Homo sapiens: one gene and its partners. The protein of the gene in region 2 purifies or fractionates together with the protein of the main gene of each other region. This does not show direct contact. Each region holds a gene or a part of one and is shown on either strand. Other genes may lie near its edges.

Region 1 (3,681 bases), on a different chromosome or scaffold from region 2:
TGTGACCTATATCCTACCCATCGATTACTGTAAGTTTTTATTAAGTCTTGGTATCTTGTCAAACAAGTTCTCTTTCCCCATCTTCAAATATATGTTGGCTATTTGGGGGCATAACTCTTCCACATGAATTTTTGAATCCATTTATCTAGTTTCCAAAAACACCTGTTAGGATCTTGTTGGCAAATATATTTATAAGTAGTCAGAATTTAAATTTTCATGCTTTTGAGCTCTCCATCCATAAATATGGTATGCCTATCCATTGAACAAATTTCTATCAGGCCTTTCAATAATGTCTTGTACTTTTCTCCATAAAGAATTGCACTTAAAAAAAAAAAAGATACAGGGTCTTGCTCTGTCACCCAGGCTGGAGTACAGTGGCACAACCATAGTTCACTATAGCCTCAAACTCCTGGGCTCAAGAGATCCTCCTTCCCCAGCCTCCCGAGTAGCTAGGACTACAGACTCATGCTACCACACTTGGCTTTTTTTTTTGTTTGTTTTTTGTTTTTTTTTTTCCTGTAGAGACAGGGTCTTGCTGTATTGCCCAGACTGGTTTTGAACTCCTGGCCTCATGTAATCCTCCCACCTTGGCCTCCCTAAGTGCTGGGATTACAGGTATGAGCCACCATGCTTGGCTAGGAATTGCACATTGTTTGATTTGATCCTCAATCACTTAGGATCTTTATTCGTTTTTTAAAGCACTTTTTGTTTATTAGAATAGGTAATATATTTACCAATTTCTAAAAACTTAAAAGTATACATTGATAATTTCCCACCCCTTTACCTCAGGCACCCAATTCTCCTCCAGAAAAAAACCAATGTTACCAATTTCTCTATTGGCTTTCAATGTGCTTACTATTTGTATATAGTAGTTATATTAAATTTTGTTCCTCGATCTTGCAACTAGAAATCCAGCTGAATTATTTTTAGTATTTGTAAGTTATTTTGGATTTTATACACATACACACCATCAACATCATTACCTGCAAAGGGCAGTCATTTTGTTGCTTCTTTTCCATTCTTTATTCCTTTCACTGATGTTACTGCATTGGCTAGGATATCTCTAAATAAAGTAGCTGTTAAAGTAGCTGGATAGTAGCTGTGATAGAGGGCAACCTTGTCTTATTCTTGACTTTAACGAGATCGCTTCTGTTTCATTTGCTATAGGTTCTCAATAAAAGTCTTTATCAGGTTAAAAAAAAAGTTACCTATTTTGCTAAGAATGAGTAGCATGAATATTTTAATCAAGTTATTTTCTGTACCTATTGAAATGATCCTATGGTTTTTCTCCTTTAACCTATTAAATGTGCTGAATCACTCATAGAAAAAAAAATAGTAGTCTCAAACACTTTTACCCCAAGTTGTTGTTTATTTTCATGAGGGGGGAAAAAAGAATCCTTTATGATAGTGAAAATATACTTTATTTTTTAATACAATAGCTGCCAGCAATATACTGGTGCTGATGTTCCAAAGATAAAAGAAAATACATGCATTCTATAATAAGCTTTCATTTGCCTGTTCAAGAAATTATAAAGAAAATACTCCAATTCTGTTCAACATTACGGCTTGAGGAGTTGAAATTTTTCCATGATAAAAATATACTTTGTGTGGCCCAAACCTTGACTATTTATAAAGGATGGAGTTTTTAAAAGCCCACATGTATCAATAATGGATGCTCCCCTCTCTTTGAATTAAATGCTTAAATTCAAATTAATGCAAGAAATTGGTGAATCATTAAATGATGAAATTTGTATCAAAATGTTCATGAAAAAATACATTTCTATTTCCTCTACATTTTTACTTTGTAGTTATTTTCTAAATGGGTTTAAGGGCACAGAAATAAATGCTATCTACATGCAACTCTGGAGAGATTCAAAACACAACAGAAGTTAACATGCCTAAATCCTAGAGTTGATCCATTTAGTGTAAGAATAAATGTCAGAAATCTCTTAATTGTATACAGATTGCTCAAGGATTTAAAGATAAATTGTGAAAGCCAAAATTACCAAGAAATAAAATCTTATTTGAATTTTATCACAAAAGTTTACAGTCCTAGTAAAAGACAACAGAACTGTATAGAATATCTGCATCTACATCAAAAAAGGGAAGTTTTATCAACTAGAATAGAGAGCTTTCCAACTGCTGAATACAAAAATTTCTCAGAATCTCTTGGAAAACAGATCCATTCAGACTCCAATCTCCTCACTGAAGTAAAACACAAAAGGTGTTTAAATGAAGGGGAATGGATGTTAGTTGTAAAAATAAAATCAGATTATTTCCATTATGGCAATTCATATACTGCATGAACTGTCTACCATGAAAACTTTATGTCCCAAATTTCTCAAGATGTTAAACTATGCTCTTTCCACAAACATACAATGGGGTTAAAGCATGTTGCTGGGTCGTCCTTTTTACTAGCTAGCTTTTGTCCATTTACCAATTTCCATTTCATTTGACTAACTTCCCTGATAAAGTGGTATCTGTGTTTCTACAGAGAAAAATAATTCTGTCTTCATCAAAATCACAATAGACATGCCTTCCTAGAACATTTAGAGGGATGGCCAGGTGTAATCACTGGTTTAATAAAAACAGGAGAATATCCAAAATGAAAATATTTGAGTTTCAAAATGAATTTTCATCACTGTATTCTGAAGAATGTAGTTCTTTCCTCTTGTTAGCCCTCCACCTCGCACCACTCAGTCCACCATTCACTGGAAAGAACAAACCTCACTGCTCTTGAATCTTTTTTATACTTTAAGCTATGAGGCAAGGTTCAGAATCACCAGAATGAATCCCAAGTTGCCACTATTTAAAAAGTAGGTGAAGAATGATAATGCCTGCCTGTGTACTGGTGCAGATGGGACATTTTCACCCACTAAAACCACTGCAAAATAATTTCTCAATAGATAACTGAATAGTGCATCTTCCTTGAACCAGATAAATCATACAATATTTAATTACCAAAAAAAAACCAAGCGGGTACTCAAACTTTTGATAAGCAATAAAGAGTTCTAAGAAAGGTAAGGCAAAGAATCTTCCTGAGCCAAATGGATACAACATGGAGATTTTCTTATCTTTCATACTAAGCTAATTAATGATAGGCTCAAAAAATGCAGTATACTTATAAAAAGCCGCTTTCATAAAGCCAGTGCTTACTAAATGTTAGCATATCAAAGTGGGAGAAACACTGCCATTTTAAAGCAATAAACTTAAAATTTCAAGAAACAGCCTATGAGAAATAGCACTTCCTATACAAATTAGGTATAAAAAAATTACCAAAAATGTATTATAGTCACAATCACAGTCTTTGGAGTAGTACGTAGAAAGTCTGGTTTTGCTTTTGTCTTTTAAAAAAGAGTAAATACATAGCAAAGTTTTATTTTCAGCAAGTTCATCCTCCTGTTAGAACACAAATAATTCCTGGTTTAGGGCTTCAATTAAAAAAAACCCCGAAAAACAAAACAAAAACATGCAGAGTGCTATTCCTCAACATGGCTGTTGGAAAATTTAACTCCAGGAAGTGCAATGAGTGAGATCAGGCAAAACTACAGTAAATACACACTCACCATAACTATAACTTAGTCCCAAAGGAATGAACAATCCTCTATACAAGGTAAATGGGGTGAAATGAGAAAATTGGTGACCTGTGTTTTATCTTTCTTTTATATAGGATGGATAACG
Region 2 (5,580 bases):
CACCTCCTCCCCCACCTCCTCTTCATCCTCATCACCTAGTCACCATTATGATTCAACAGCACACTCACGGTGTAGGTGAAGGAAACTAAGCCTCCTGGCTCAAGAATGGGTTGGCAGACTAGTTAAGGCTCTATTCTTTGCTGTCAGAGAGCCCAGGTTTGAATTCTGGCTCTGCTATCTCATGGACACAAGAAATCATGGGCAAGCTTCAGTATCATCATCTTTGAAATGGGGAAATTAAAAAACATTTACCTCATAGGATTGTTAGCAGAACTGACTGACATTATGCAATAAAGCACTTGTACAATGCCTTGTGCATAGGAAAACATCAATAAGCAGTAGCTATGTAGCTATCTGTATTAGCTAGAAAAAATCATCATAGTTTTGATCGAGGAAGCAAGGATCAAATCTCAACTGTGAAATTACATGAGAATTTGGAGGCTCAACAGCAAGATCCATAGCCTGGCCTGGCCTGCAGTTTTGAATATCTGAGTTTCTAAATAATGGCAAACCACAAGGTAAACTTATTAGCATCGTAGGATTTTAACCACTCACCTATGAGGGAAACATGCAATGCCAGCTCTTTGCATGACGCCGAGGATTAAGGAGGCAATTGTTTCTTTATAAATCATAGTGTGGTGAGTAGTAGAATGGTCCTCTGCTAGAAATCTATTTCAACCATCATCTGAATACCCTTTAAAATACCATGTCTCTCCATCAGGGGAAAGCTACCCCATTCTCACTCTCAGCAGAGCCATTTGGGTCACTGCCCTGGGGATCCTGTTGGTTGGGCCACTAATGACAGCCAGTGACAAAGAGCATGTGAGAGCAGAGTCAATCTGACAGTCCTGCTCTGACTAGTTGGTATCTCTTGGTGCCTCAGGCAGGCCTAGTGGAGAAGGAACACAGTCATATGGTTGGGTATACACATTTTCGCTAAAGGGGACATTAACGACACCATGACCATAGGTCCCAAATTCTCTGGCAGTGTCTCCATTCACATCATTTCCCCCAGTAATGGCAGATCATTAAATACATCCAGGAGTGTGATTTGATTTTTATGCTTTTGTAAGATTTCCTCAGCAAGTCAATTCACAAATGTGAAGGAAACAAGCACTTGTCACACTGAGCAGAATGCATATCTGGAAGGCATAGTCACCAAGCTCCCAGATAAAGGTTTAACAAAAGGTTGGAGTGCTATCTATTTCTCAGATTGACAAAATAGCCCCAGATGGCTTTGTCTATAAGCTGCAGTTGAGCAAGAAGCACACTGGCCCCCTGCCTCCCTTCTCCTCTGGTAGCTGTGATTTGTTATGGGAGTGGTAAGAGGAATAAAAGGCAGTATGTCACCGTTAGCTTCCTCTAGCTTGAGGCTTCTGTTTACATTAGTTGCTGAGATCCCCTCTGTGTCCTCAGGGTGTGTGTTCCATTAGAAGAGGGTACCTCCTTTTAATAGAACATAACAATGGGGAAGGCAAACACTGCCCCCAGGATAACAGCTGAGAGCATCTTACACACATCAATCGGCACAGGGAAGAACACTGTGAGCAGTTTTTACAAGGAGATGGGGCAAAGGAGAGAAGAAAAGAACAATCCCAAAGGCCAGGGGGCTGTTTACCTTCCCATAGATCCACCGTCTGAAAGATGTCGGTGGTTCTGACACCATAGGTCTCCGCAGCTTTTAGGAACTGGGAGATTTGCTCCATCTGCTTAAAAGCCATCTTTGACTCTGAGATCTTGGGTATGGGCTCTTGTCCTGGTGGGTATAAACTATTTATCAGCTTGCACAGGACCTGAAGAGGGAGGGGAGAGACAGAATCAATGTTTCCCTTTGTATTTACAGGTCAAGAATGAGAAGTGAATCCTGCTCACGTGGGACACTGCTCATCCAGTTTGGGCAGGAGCAAGTCATGGGCCCTAGGAAGGCACGGGCTCTGGGCTGTGTAGCCAGGCTCCTATACTAAGCCCCAAAGACCCAGAGGACCCCATTCCTAATGCTGCTCCTTACTACAGAGATTCCTGTAGCCTGGGAGCGCCATTCCCTCCCTGTTCCTCCCTTCCTTTTTCTGGATGAGGGAAAGGATGTTTACAGATAGGGAATGATGTGACGTGATGAGGACGTGATTCTAGACTTTCAAAGGAGGAATGACTTAGTGGCTCCTGAGGTTGGCAGAGCTCAAATGATAGAGTCTAATATTATTTCTTCTATCAAAAGGCAAATTAAGCAGGCTTCAATTTACTCATCCCATATATTTTAACAATGTGTAAAAGAAGTGGATGTGGTACCTTTTTCCCAGATATATATATATAACCCAAGCTCTGGGCAACCCAGCAGAAGCATTGGATAGCAGTTATGTAACAGTAAATCACAGACTGCAGGAAAGGATGGGCTTGTTTGAATCACAGAGCCTGCGGCCCTCAAACCCTCAAACACACACGAGCATTTGGTCAGAAATGCAGTTAACAAATAAGGACTCCTTTCAGTTTCATGAGAACGCATCCACTCAATAAACAGACACTGAACACTTCCAGGGTGCATGGCTCCCACAAGAATGTGAAGGTGGCTAGTCCCCCTCCTCCCTTCTTTGTTTTACTGTGTAACCAACACGATCCCCTAGGGAAAGAAATGGCCCCAGAAGAGCTGATGCACCAGGAAGGCTGGGGAAATTACAAGGACATACTTATCTCTATTCTCATTAGAAAAATCAAAAGGGCTTCGAATTTGCCAACTCAGAAGGGAGATGTAATGCTAGGGTGAGTGGAGAACCCCCAAGCTAGCTAGGGAATAGTGCATGGAGCCCAAATCTTCCAACCCTGAAGAAATAAAGGCATTCTCATCCCCTCCCGGTGAGACATAGAGCTTGGCAACAGCAGCTCTTCCCGCAGCCTTACGTTAAAAGAAAGGGCCCTGGAGGGTTTCCCTGCCCACCGCCCCAGCAACCGAGATCGCTGCCGGCCTTACCGTCCCGTCCATTAACCATTTCTGAAAATGGGCCCTGCCGGGGGGCGGGTGCTCTATGTCCTCGGCGCACTGCAGGATGATCCAGTCCACCAGCTTGTTCTCCAGGTCCGCATCATACTTCTGCTCGATCTTCTCCTGCACCTCTCGGCTTAAGCCATAGCTCGGGCCCCTGTTAGCCATCTCTGGAAAGAAGAGAAGACACGCGCGGCATCCACACAATAGCAGCAGCAGCAGCCTCCGGCTCCCTGCAGACGGGGCTGGGATATGGCTGGGCAACCTGGCCCAGCAGCAGCAAAGAGGGCAGAAAGCCGGGCGTGGTTTAAATCAAGGAGCCAATGAAGCCAATGGGGTTTCACCTACAAACGGGAAAGAAAAGCACAGCTACCCGCCAGTAACTCTAGAATAAACCTCCGGCCGGTCCAGGGGGGCTGGAATCCCCCTCCCTATCCCGCCTATCAATGAGACCAGATGATATAACACGGACTCACAATCAAGTCTGAACCCCCAGGCAGCAAGGGGGATGGGTGGCGGACGTTTCTTCCCCCTTCTCAGTAGCACTTTGCAAAGGCAGAAACGATGAGATCGGGAAGAGCAGGTAATTAGCAGGCAGGGAGGAAGCCTCCTTTCATGTTGAACTGCAGCCGCTGCTGCCTCGCGCCTGGAAGAATGGCACATTGATTTGATTTTCTCATGGCTGAGGGGGCTCAACCAGGGCCGTTGCTAAGAGCCCTCCAAAAAGCCAGCCCTCTCCTGTGTCAATCAAGCCCGCCTGCCTCCCTCCCGCTGAGAGCCTCTTTCTCATCTGCACAATTCTTTCCCTCTTCTGGGGAGACAGCCGATTGTCTACGAGGCCAGCAGCTGCACAAGGGGATGAGGGCCTGTGGGAGGGTCCGTTCTACCAACTGTCCATCTGTCGGGAATAGCCAAGCTACTTTCCCCCTGCCCTGAGGTAACAACTGTCTGGCAGGACAGGAGGGGAGGGACTGAGAGCTGCTATCATTTACTTGTTCAGCTGCCAGCCCAACTTCACCCAGAAACTTCCATCCTGAAACTGTTGTGCCTCAGTTTGACTTATTCAAGGGAGGTATTTTTTTCATGCTACTCTTAACTGAAAGACACTAAGAACAAGTTTTATAAATTATTATTATAATTCTTACTATATATTTTTAGACAGAGTCTCGCTCTGTTGCCCAGGCTGGAGTGCAGTGGCACAATCTCGGCTGGCTGCAACCTCTGCCTCCTGGGTTCAAGCGATTCTCCTGCCTCAGCCTCCCAGGTAGCTAGGATTACAGGTGTGTGCCACCAGGCCTGGCTAATTTTTGTATTTTTAGTGGAGATGGGGTTTTGCCACGTTGGTCAGGCTGGTCTTGAACTCCTGACCTCAGGTGATCTGACTGCCTCGGCCTCCCAAAGTTCTGGGATTACAGGCATGAGCCACCACGCCCGGCAAGTTTTATAAATTAAACAAAACTCAACGACTAAGAACTCTTAGAGTGAAAGGTTTTGATAGAATGTAAAGACTTCATCTGAAGTAAGGACCGTGAAGGCACAACCGACATATTGTCAGAAGTAACTGAATATTTCTCATGGGCAAACAAGCACTCAGGAGAAACCATTAGCTCTAAGTTGGCCCCACATTTTTATAACAGCTAAAGGGCTTGGCAGTTTGTCCTCCTAGACTGTAAGCCATTTGTGGGTAAAGATTGAGTCTCATTGGTGTTGTGTAATTCTCTGGGTGTTTTTCATGAGAAAAATTCCACATTTTTTTTCGTTTGGTTCATTTCTTCATTCAACAGATATTTACTGAGTGTTTATGCCAACTACTGGACTGAGGAGGAATAAAATACAATTCTTGCATTGAAAACAGATTGATAAATTGACTCAAGCATATTAAATAAAGCAATTCTGGGTACATGGGATGATGATCTTTGTCCCTGTGGGAAATTGATTAGAAGCTATGCAGGAAATGACTCCTCAAATAATACATGTATTGAGAAAAATCTCCTACCGGCTGATGCCTGGACTAATGAAAATTTAATTACTTAGGAGATATGTGGGTGGTTTGCCTGAAAAAGACTTAGCGGTCAGTCGTTGAAGGCCTGGCAGACAGTCCTCTGAAAACAGAAAACTAGGAGATTCAGGAGAGCAGTAGGTTTAGGAAGAGACAAGGGAAGGGCTGACTAAGGCAGGTCTTGATGCTGCATGGAATCATCAGTTGAAGAAGCTCAAAAGACAGCAGCACTGTGTTGGGACACTTGGAGCTTAGGGGAAGAGCTTAGAGCAGGGAAATTGACAGAAGAATTATGGAAGTCATCATTGGTATCTTGGGGAGGAGCCATAAGGCTAGTTCCAACCTTAGACTAAGGGAACGGAGTCCCAAACAGAAACCACATAATTTTTTCCATGGCTGGAATGGCTCTAAGGAAGTTGTTGGTTTGATATGCAAAGCTTGAAACAATTCTAAAGATGTACATTTGCTTGACTTTTTTTAAACACTGTGTTTTGCAAATCTTTTGTACCCAAAGAGTCCCTCATATTATAACAGAGTAGCTGGTGTGCTTTAAGTGAATGACTGGGCCCATGCTTCTAGAGAGGATACAATGGCAAAGAGAGGGGCC
Region 3 (4,493 bases), on a different chromosome or scaffold from region 2:
TTCTTCATTTCTATTTTTATTTATTTATTTATTTATTTGAGACAGAATCTCAATTTGTCACCCAGGCTGGAGTGCAGTGGCACAATCTCGGCTCACTGCAACCTCCATCTCCTGGGTTCAATCGATTCTTCTGCCTCAGCCTCCCAGGTAGCTGGCATTACAGGCGCCCACCACCACACTCAGCTGATTTTTGTATTTTTAGTAGAAACAGGGTTTTGCCATATTGGCTAGGCTGGTCTTGAACTCCTGAACTGCAGGTGATCCACCCACCTTGGCCTCCCAAAGTGCTGGGATTACAAGCATGAGCCACTGTGCCTGGCCTTTTCTTTGTTTCTATTACCACGACCAAGTCACCAGCTTATCTCACCTGTACACAGGAACAACCTCCTAACTGGTCTTTTTGATCCTCTTTTACTCGCCTCCATTTCATTGTCCACTTGGCATCCAGACTGATTTTTTTTTTTCTTTAAACACAAATCTGATTCTATTACTCCCCTGCTCAAAATACTTCAATAGCTCCCCAGAGCAGAATCCAAATGCCTACCTTGCATACAGGCACTTCACAATCCGGCTCTGGCCTGCTTATAACCCTCTCTGTTCTCCCCTTCCTTCCCTTCCCTCTGTGTCCTTTTCAGGTCATACCTTTCTCAAATTCCTCTGCACTTTTCAACTTTTTTTTTTTTTTTTTTTTTTTTGAGTCGGAGTCTCCCTCTGTTGCCCAGGCTGGAGTGCAGTGGTGTGATCTCGGTTCACTGCAACCTCCGCCTCCCGGGTTCAAGGGATTCTCCTGCCTCAGCTTCCTGAGTAGCTGGGACTACAGGTACCTGCCACTATGCCTGCTAATTTTTTTATATTTTTAGTAGAGATGGGGTTTTGCTATGTTGGCCAGGCTGGTCTCGAACTCCTGACCTCAGGTGATCTGCCCACCTCAGCCTCCCAAAGTGCTGGGATTACAGGTGTGAGCTATCATGCCCAGCCAGACTTTTCAACTTTTTTATGCCACTTCCTCCACCTAAAGTTCTGTTTTCCCAGCTATTCCAGCCTCAGGTTGAGTCCTCGCATAAGGTTCCTAAGGTTTCCTAAGTTTCCCCCAAAAGGGAAAACCCAAAGGTTACATTATCCCCTACTGTAGGGAACAGTGTAAGGTGACCTAGCTGGTCAGAGGTGGCCTCCAGACTCTGTACTAAGAGGGCTGTTTGAAACCAGAACCCCCCCCCAGGTGCTGGTCCAGCAGTTCTGGTTCCCCCAGCCTCTGCTTCAGAAGCCTTGTCATCCTGATGTCCACATGTCATCTCAGTCCAGCAGCCCAAGGCCCAACAGCTATTCTCAATTCTTCTGTGACTCTGACTCAAAGATCAGACCTTCTGTAAATGATGCAGTTCCACGACTGCTCCCGGCAGTCCCTGGACCACCACAAAAGGCCATTTGGGACTAGAAAAAGACCTTGCTTGTACATCCAGAGACTGGGTTTTGACTTCACTCTGGCTCTAACTCATTGTGTGAGACTGGGCAAATCACTTCCTCTCCCAGGGCCTCAGATGTGTCATATTTAACATAGGAAGCAGGGCCAGCTTAGTGTAGGAGCATCTATGATGCTACTTCCTAATTCCTACAACTAAAATATATATTAGAGAAACAGTCTTATTTAACTACTTTCTGAGTAGAATACATTAAGCTTTTGCCCTGGGTACTAACTGAGGCAAAGAAGAAAACCCTTCTGGCTACACAGAGGTACATGCAGATGGATGCTAACAAGATCAAATACAATCGCATGCATTTGCTAAGGTTGCTAAGATATTCAAATACACAAAGATACTTGTGCATGCTCACATGCACTTATGCACTCACACTCAGGAGAAAAGCCCTGGTGGCCAAATAGATGCTAAGAAAATATTTACATACACAGATCTACATACATTCACACAGATACATACTTGTACAAATATGCACACAGATATGCAAACACACATGCACACATTCACACACTCCATTTATATACCGACTTTCCTTTCTCATTCCTTAGTTTCTTCAGGTTTCATGTGACTTAATCTACTTTGGATAAATAACTTCATTTATCTATTGCTACAAGTTAAGCCAAAACCATGCAGTCTAGAAACAGACCCACTTACATGGTGATTTGATTGGACAAAGATACCACTGCAATGCAGCAAATAAAGGTTTTTTTTTCTTGCATTAAGGTTGTTGAGTCAACAGTATATTCATATGGGGAAAAAATGAACTTTAACCCCTACCAAATCCACACACAAAAAAATCAATTCCAGATGAATCATAAACCTAAATATGAAAGATAGAATAATAAAGCTTCTACAAGATAACAAATAGAAGGATATCTTCATGACCTAGAGACAATTTTTTTTTTTTTTTTCCTGAGACAGAGTCTCATCTCTGTCACCCAGGCTGGAGTGCAGCGGCTCAATCTCAGCTCACTGCAACCTCCGCCTCCTGGGTTGTTCAAGTAATTCTCCTGTCTCAGCCTCCCGAGTAGCTGGGATTACAGGCATGCACCACCATGCCTGGCTAATTTTTGTATTTTTAGTAGAGACAGGGTTTCACCATGTTGGCAAGGCTGGTCTCGAACTCCTGACCTCAGGTGATCCACCTGCCTTGGCCTCCCAAAGTGCTGGGATTATAGGCAGGAGCCACCGCACCTGGCCTGACAGACAAAGATTTCTTAAACTGAACACAGAAAGCACTAACCATAAAGGGAAAGATTGATAAGTCAGACTTCATCAAAATTAGGAACTTCTGTTCAGGCCAGGTACAGTGGCTCACACCTGTAATACTAGCACTTTGGGAGGCCAAGGTAGGAGGATCACTTGAGCCCAGGAGTTTGAGACCATCCTGGGCAACATAGGGAGACCTTCCTCTCTACAGAAAAACTAAAAATTAGCCAGGTGGCCGGGCCCGGTGGCTCACGCCTGTAATCCCAGCACTTTGGGAGGCCGAGGCGAGCAGATCACCTGAGGTAGGGAGTTCGAGACCAGCCTGACCAACATGGAGAAACCCAGTCTCTACTAAAAATACAAAATTGTCCAGGCGTGGTGGCGCATGCCTGAAATCCCAGCTACTCGGAAGACTGAGGCAGGAGAATTGCTTGAACCTGGGAGGCAGAGGTTGTGGTGAGCTGAAATCGTGCCATTGCACTCCAGCCTGGGCAACGATAGCAAAACTCCATCACACACACACAAAAAAAAACCAAAAAAAAATTAGCCAGGCATGGTAGCATGTTCCTGTACTCCCAGCTACTTGGGAGGCTGACATGGGAGGAGTCCTTGAACCCAGGAGGTCAAGGCTGCAGTGAGCCATGATCCCTGAAGACTAGAGCCACTGAACTCCAGCCTGGGTAACAGAGTGAGATCCTATCTCAAAAATAAAAAAGAAAGAAAAAAATTTTAAAAAGAAAGAAAAGAAGAAAATATAAACTATAAAAAAAGAACTTCTGTTCAAAATATACTATTAAGAGAGTAAAAAGGCAAGCCATAGTGTGGGAGAAGATGTTTGGGATAGATATAACCAACAAAAGACTCATATCCAAAACATATACAAAACTCCTATAAATCAACAAGAAAAAGACAACCGGCCGGGCACCATGGCTTACACCTGTAATCCCAGTACTCTGGGAGGCCGAGGCAGGTGGATCACCTGAGGTCAGGAGTTTGAGACCAGCCTGGCCAACATGGCGAAACCCTGTCTCTACTAAAAACCTCAAAATTAGCCGGGCACGGTGGCACACACCTGTAATCCCAGCTACTCAGGAGGCTGAGGCAGGAGAATCACTTGAACCCGGGAAGTGTAGGTTGCAGGGAGTGAAGATTGCGCCATTGCACTCCAGCCTGAGCAACAAGAGTGAAACTCTGTCTCAAAAAAAGAAAAAGAAAAAGACAACCTAATTTTCTAAAATGGACAAAATTAGAGCAGTCTAAAGAGGATATCCAAATGGCCAGTAGGCACATGAAAAGGTGCTCAACTTCATTCATCATCAGGGAAACACAAATCAAAACCACAGTGACCAGCCTGGCCAACATGGTGAAATCCCATCTCTACAAAAAATACAAAAATTAGCTGGGTGTGGTGGTGCGCACCTGTAATCCCAGCTACTTGGGAGGTTGAGGCACAAGAATCGCTTGAACCCAGGAGGCGGGGTTGCAGTGAGCCAAGATCGCACCACTGCACTCCAGCCTTGGCAACAGAGTGAGACCTTGTCTCAAAAAAAAAAAACAAAAAAACCCACAATGAAATGGTACTGAACGCTCACCAGAGTAGGCCAAAACCAAAACAAAGCCTGGTGTGGTGGCTCATTCCTGTAATCCCAGCACTTTGAGAGGCCGAGGCAGGCAGATCACCTGAGGTCAGGAGTTTGAGATCAGCCTGGCCAATATGGTGAAACACCGTCTCTACTAGAAACACAAAAATTAGCCAGGCATGGTGGCGGGCGCCTGTAATCCCAGCTACTCGGGAGGCTAAGGCAGGAG
Region 4 (4,493 bases), on a different chromosome or scaffold from region 2:
TATAGGTTGCTACTACATGGATGTGACTAAGAAAATACATAGATTATCTTAAAATGGGCATGATGTAAAAGACTCAATCAGTAGGGTAACTAAAAACTTTGTAGTACTCTAGCTTTGGAAATCTGAGAGGCCTATATAGTTCATTTGAGTGTTTGATCAAATTCTTATTGAGATTACAGCCTGTGCAAAATATTTGTGATGCATTTTTAAGTTTACTTAAGTACACTTTGAAATTCTTTAAAAATTTTAAAATCTTTAAAAGGACACAAGAGTGTACCACATTGAGATTAAAATGTGTTTATTATTAATTTGTACATAATACTATAACAAATAATTGTTCTCAGGTATGTTTAAGGCCTTATTTTAAAAGTTGATTCTTCAATTTCTAATTTAAAATAAGCTTTTAGTTTTTCTCAACTATGTATATGTAATGATTATAGATGCCTAGAGTAGTGTTTCCCAGACAACTAGAACCACACACAAATTAGTACCACCAAAAAAAAAAAAAAAAAAACTTCATGAAGAACAGGGATTACTGGTCAAAAAATACGAGAAACACTTCATTTCTGTTAGGAGTATATTAAAGGCTTTTGAGAAGACCACTAGTTAAATGTGTTTTCCAAACTTGATCACAAAACTCAACTATAATATCTATAAAGTTAGTCCATAGCACAAACATGCTTAAATTTGTTGGATAAATGCATAAACTGTGAAGACATAAACACACTTTGGCAACTGCTGGTCTCTTTAAGAGATGGAATCTACCTTTTAGCTACCAATAAATTCCATACCACATTTCATTGATTTAAAAAACACATCTTTTTAAACATCTCTGAAATAGATCAGGGGAGGCTTGCTATCACTGTTGGCCAAATGGCTTTCACTTAATTGTCTAGGTAACATCATCTACACTTAATTATTATTTCCTAATGACATAATTGGACTATTGCAATCCTTGAGCTTTAAATCAGCAAATCATTACAGAGGAATGTAAGGAATACAAGCCTTGGTTGTTACCTGAAAATCTTCGGTAGGCACCTCCCATTAAACACAGAGAGCATCTGTTCAGATCTTGCAATTTCTATGGAGAAATTTTAGGAATAATCTCATCAGTTTATTTTGCATGTACTTTTTGCTGTTCAAGAGAATTATAAATGACAAAATTGATGGATAAGTCCTAAAGAGTAAACATTGATCTGGGCATAAATTGACAGTGGTTTTTCATTTTTGTAATGTATAATATAAGGTACACTTTTATAATTAATGGTGTCCTAAATACAATCAAAAGCACTGTTTATAATACAGGGTTTTTTTTTTACAGATAAAGCATATGATATAGTCCAGTTGACCCTTGAATAACGTGGGAGTTAGGGGTTCCAACCCCCTGTGCAGTTGAAAATCTGCATAAAACTTTTTTATTTCTCAAAAACTTTACTAATAGCCTACTGTTGACTGGAAGCCTTACTGATAACACAGACAGGCGATTAATATGTATTTTGTTATGTGTATTATATACTGTATTCTTACAATAACGTTAAAGAAAAAATACTAAGAAAATCATAACAGAAAGTATATTTACTATTCATTAAGTGGAAGTGGACCATGGGAAAGGTCTTAATCCTTGTCTTGTGTTGAATATACTGAGGAGAAGGAAGAGGAAGGGTTGGTCTTGCTGTCTCAGGAGTAGCGGAGGCAGAAGAAAATCTGCATATGTCATTCAAGGGTCAGCTGTACTTTCCTTGATAGTTTCACTTATTCTAAAAGATTAATCCTACTTTAGAATTATAGAATTGGTATTTGTACCCCATTCTTGCTAATTATCTTATAGTTTTGTGTGTGTGTGTGTGTGTGTATATATATATATATTTTTTTTTCCTTCTATTTAGTTTAAAGTTCCTGCTGCAACAAGTGCAATTATTACCAATGGTAAGAATTCACTATAAAATTATGTATTACCTCAAATTTATAGAAATGGTGTAAAAGGAACCAAATTAATTAAAATTAAATACAAAAAGCCCCAAGTATATGTATATCAACATAAATGATATACTTACTGGTAAACACTAAGTCAGGGTTATTGTTAATAATTAGCTCCTTTCATTTCTTTGTATATAGCTTTTGATATAGTATAGCACTTTATAATATCTTTTGTCCTTACCAGTTCATGCCAGATTATAACTGAAAATAACTTTATTTAGCAAGTTTTTTTTTTTATTAAGTAAAGTTGTTTGGTAAATGCTTTAGAATATAGAAAGTTAAGCAGGAATGTATCTTTGCTATACCTTTCCTGATAGAAAATTGTTTCTTGTAGGCTTGCAATAATGAGAATTTTATTCCGTTTTAGGTATATAATTAAAAATCTTAATATCTTGGAACACTGATAATCAATGATGATGGAATTAGTCTTGTGAGAAAATAGTGAAATAATAAGATGAGGAGTAAAGATTGCAGGGAGGGCTTAACTGTGTTTCAAGTATACAATGCAGTATTGATGAGTGCTGATGCGTTGCCCAAGTGCAGTTTGGACAGGAGATGGGCTTAATGTGCGTGATGTAACTTAGATAAGGTAGAATTTCTCACTCTAAAATATTCTGCATTCTGTCACATTGAAGTGTTTCTCTGTTGGAAAAAAGCTGGCTTACTACCTGGAAAGTTTTAGGTCATAACTTAGTAACGTGTTGAACTAAATGACTTTGTGAGCTCTCCCAGCCTTAAGATATTATGACCTAGAACAATACGAAGATGATTCATGGCATACCTAAGGGGCTTTTTAGTTTTTTGGAAGAAAGGACAAACATTATTTTTAATTCTATATGGCAAAATAGAATTAATAACCTATATTCCATAGAACTTACCAGGATCATTGCATTGACAGACGTTTTTGTCTAACCCAGCAATGTGTATGAATGCAGAATAATAGTAGATTTCAACAGATAATTTACCTGAAAGATTGTCACTCGTGTTCTTGGATTTAAAGTGTTTGGCTTATGTCTATATACACAACAGCACTATTTTGGCAAATCTCTTTCCTTGCTACTATTTAACCATTTTAGCTTTAGAAATAATGTATGTGATTTTACAACTTATTTTCTAGATGGAATAGGAATAAATCCTGCACAGACTGCTGGTGAGTATTTGAAAACTCATAGAGGAGTGGGTGGGGTTATATATGTCAATTGACACTGAATAGTTAAGCTATTCTAATTACACTTGACAGTATTTTAACATAATGGAGCTGTTTTTTAGGGATTATATACCAGTCTTTACCTGTGTGTCTGAGTAATAAGTTGTTTCATTGTGTATATTGATTGTAGATGTTTTTGGCTACAAGTAACAGAAAACCTAATAGTGGCTTAAGCATTAAGAGTATTTATTATATATAACAAAAAGTCTGTAGATAAGATTGCTTTCTAATTGGAGTATTTTTTGACCTACCTCTTAAGGTAGTTGTGAGATAGTGACTGTAAAGTGCTTCATAGCTTGGATTATTTATAGAAAGCATTCATTAAGTGCTATTATTTTTTTTAAATATAGTCATTTACATTTCAAGGGGCTGAGTCTACATTCAGATCTTCAAACTGTTAAATTTATACAGGTGATATATTGGTGTCCTGACCAGGAGACAGGGTAAAAGTAGTCTCATACTTTATAAAAAGAAGTCTAAAACTTTTTTAAAATTAGTTTTATATTTTTAAAATGTAATCTCTTAGGCTTATAATCTAAAGTTTTAAAATTAGGCATGCTTTAATGTAACCTCATTCTAGAGCAGTAGTTATTTTTAAATTATATTCTAAAGTATTTCTTTATTGTAACAAAATTATGTTGTTTTCACAGGCCTTGCAGTTGAAATTCAGCCATAAAGAAAATGAAGTGATTTAAAATTGCAAATTTTTGTTACTTCAGTAGTTGTTAATATATAATTTTATTAAAAAGGTTTATTGAAAATCGTGAGGCACTTTATTGTATGGATGCCTTTAAACTTAGTAGACAAAGGTTTCTTTTTTTCTTAATCGAGAAACTTTCAATATTTTACAGTAGTTTGAATTACTGCTAACTCTAACATACTGCTTGTTTTATTATCTTTAAAAATTGAATGTGCATATCCTTGATATGAAGAAAATCTCATCAGGCAATTGACCCCAAATATGTCAGGGTATCTAAATTTTTGTCACTTGTAGTAATTTACATTTTTTTTCCTGTCCTTAGATATATTATTGTGTATTGAAGGAAGTATTCATGATTAAATTATTCACAGTTACTTGATGAAAGTATTCGTCAGAGTTTTCATGGCTGGTGTTATTTTAAATTTTAAGCGTATGTTGGATTGTGAAGATAGGAGAATAGGAACAAGACTTAAAAAGCTTGGAATTGGGGTCTCATGATGCTTGAGCTTTTGTACCCATTTTACTGTTTACTAAATCATTTATTATATTTAATAATTGTCAGAATATTAAGATAACTTGATTTTTAGATATCTAACTTTATGTTTTGTT

The links. The genes of interacting proteins can lie anywhere in the genome.
Region 1: the proteins of TAGLN3 (region 2) and CLIC4 fractionate together in Homo sapiens (co-fractionation; one large-scale study listed by BioGRID). This does not show direct contact.
Region 3: the proteins of TAGLN3 (region 2) and FKBP1B fractionate together in Homo sapiens (co-fractionation; one large-scale study listed by BioGRID). This does not show direct contact.
Region 4: the proteins of TAGLN3 (region 2) and UFM1 fractionate together in Homo sapiens (co-fractionation; one large-scale study listed by BioGRID). This does not show direct contact.

The regions. Positions count from the first base shown.
Region 1 is NC_000001.11:24,841,990-24,845,670, reverse strand, and holds the end of CLIC4 (chloride intracellular channel protein 4), read right to left. Parts: 3' UTR 1,350-3,681; downstream 1-1,349. UniProt on the Homo sapiens protein: In the soluble state, catalyzes glutaredoxin-like thiol disulfide exchange reactions with reduced glutathione as electron donor. Can insert into membranes and form voltage-dependent multi-ion conductive channels.
Region 2 is NC_000003.12:111,996,985-112,002,564, reverse strand, and holds the start of TAGLN3 (transgelin-3), read right to left. Parts: upstream 3,644-5,580; 5' UTR 3,451-3,643; intron 3,319-3,450; exon of another isoform or gene 3,145-3,318; 5' UTR 3,143-3,144; coding exon 2,963-3,142; intron 1,794-2,962; coding exon 1,619-1,793; intron 1-1,618.
Region 3 is NC_000002.12:24,056,097-24,060,589, reverse strand, and holds part of FKBP1B (peptidyl-prolyl cis-trans isomerase FKBP1B), read right to left. Parts: intron 1-4,493. UniProt on the Homo sapiens protein: Has the potential to contribute to the immunosuppressive and toxic effects of FK506 and rapamycin. PPIases accelerate the folding of proteins. It catalyzes the cis-trans isomerization of proline imidic peptide bonds in oligopeptides.
Region 4 is NC_000013.11:38,356,207-38,360,699, forward strand, and holds part of UFM1 (ubiquitin-fold modifier 1), read left to right. Parts: intron 1-1,886; coding exon 1,887-1,926; intron 1,927-3,094; coding exon 3,095-3,127; intron 3,128-3,834; coding exon of another isoform or gene 3,835-3,860; exon of another isoform or gene 3,861-4,493. UniProt on the Homo sapiens protein: Ubiquitin-like modifier which can be covalently attached via an isopeptide bond to lysine residues of substrate proteins as a monomer or a lysine-linked polymer.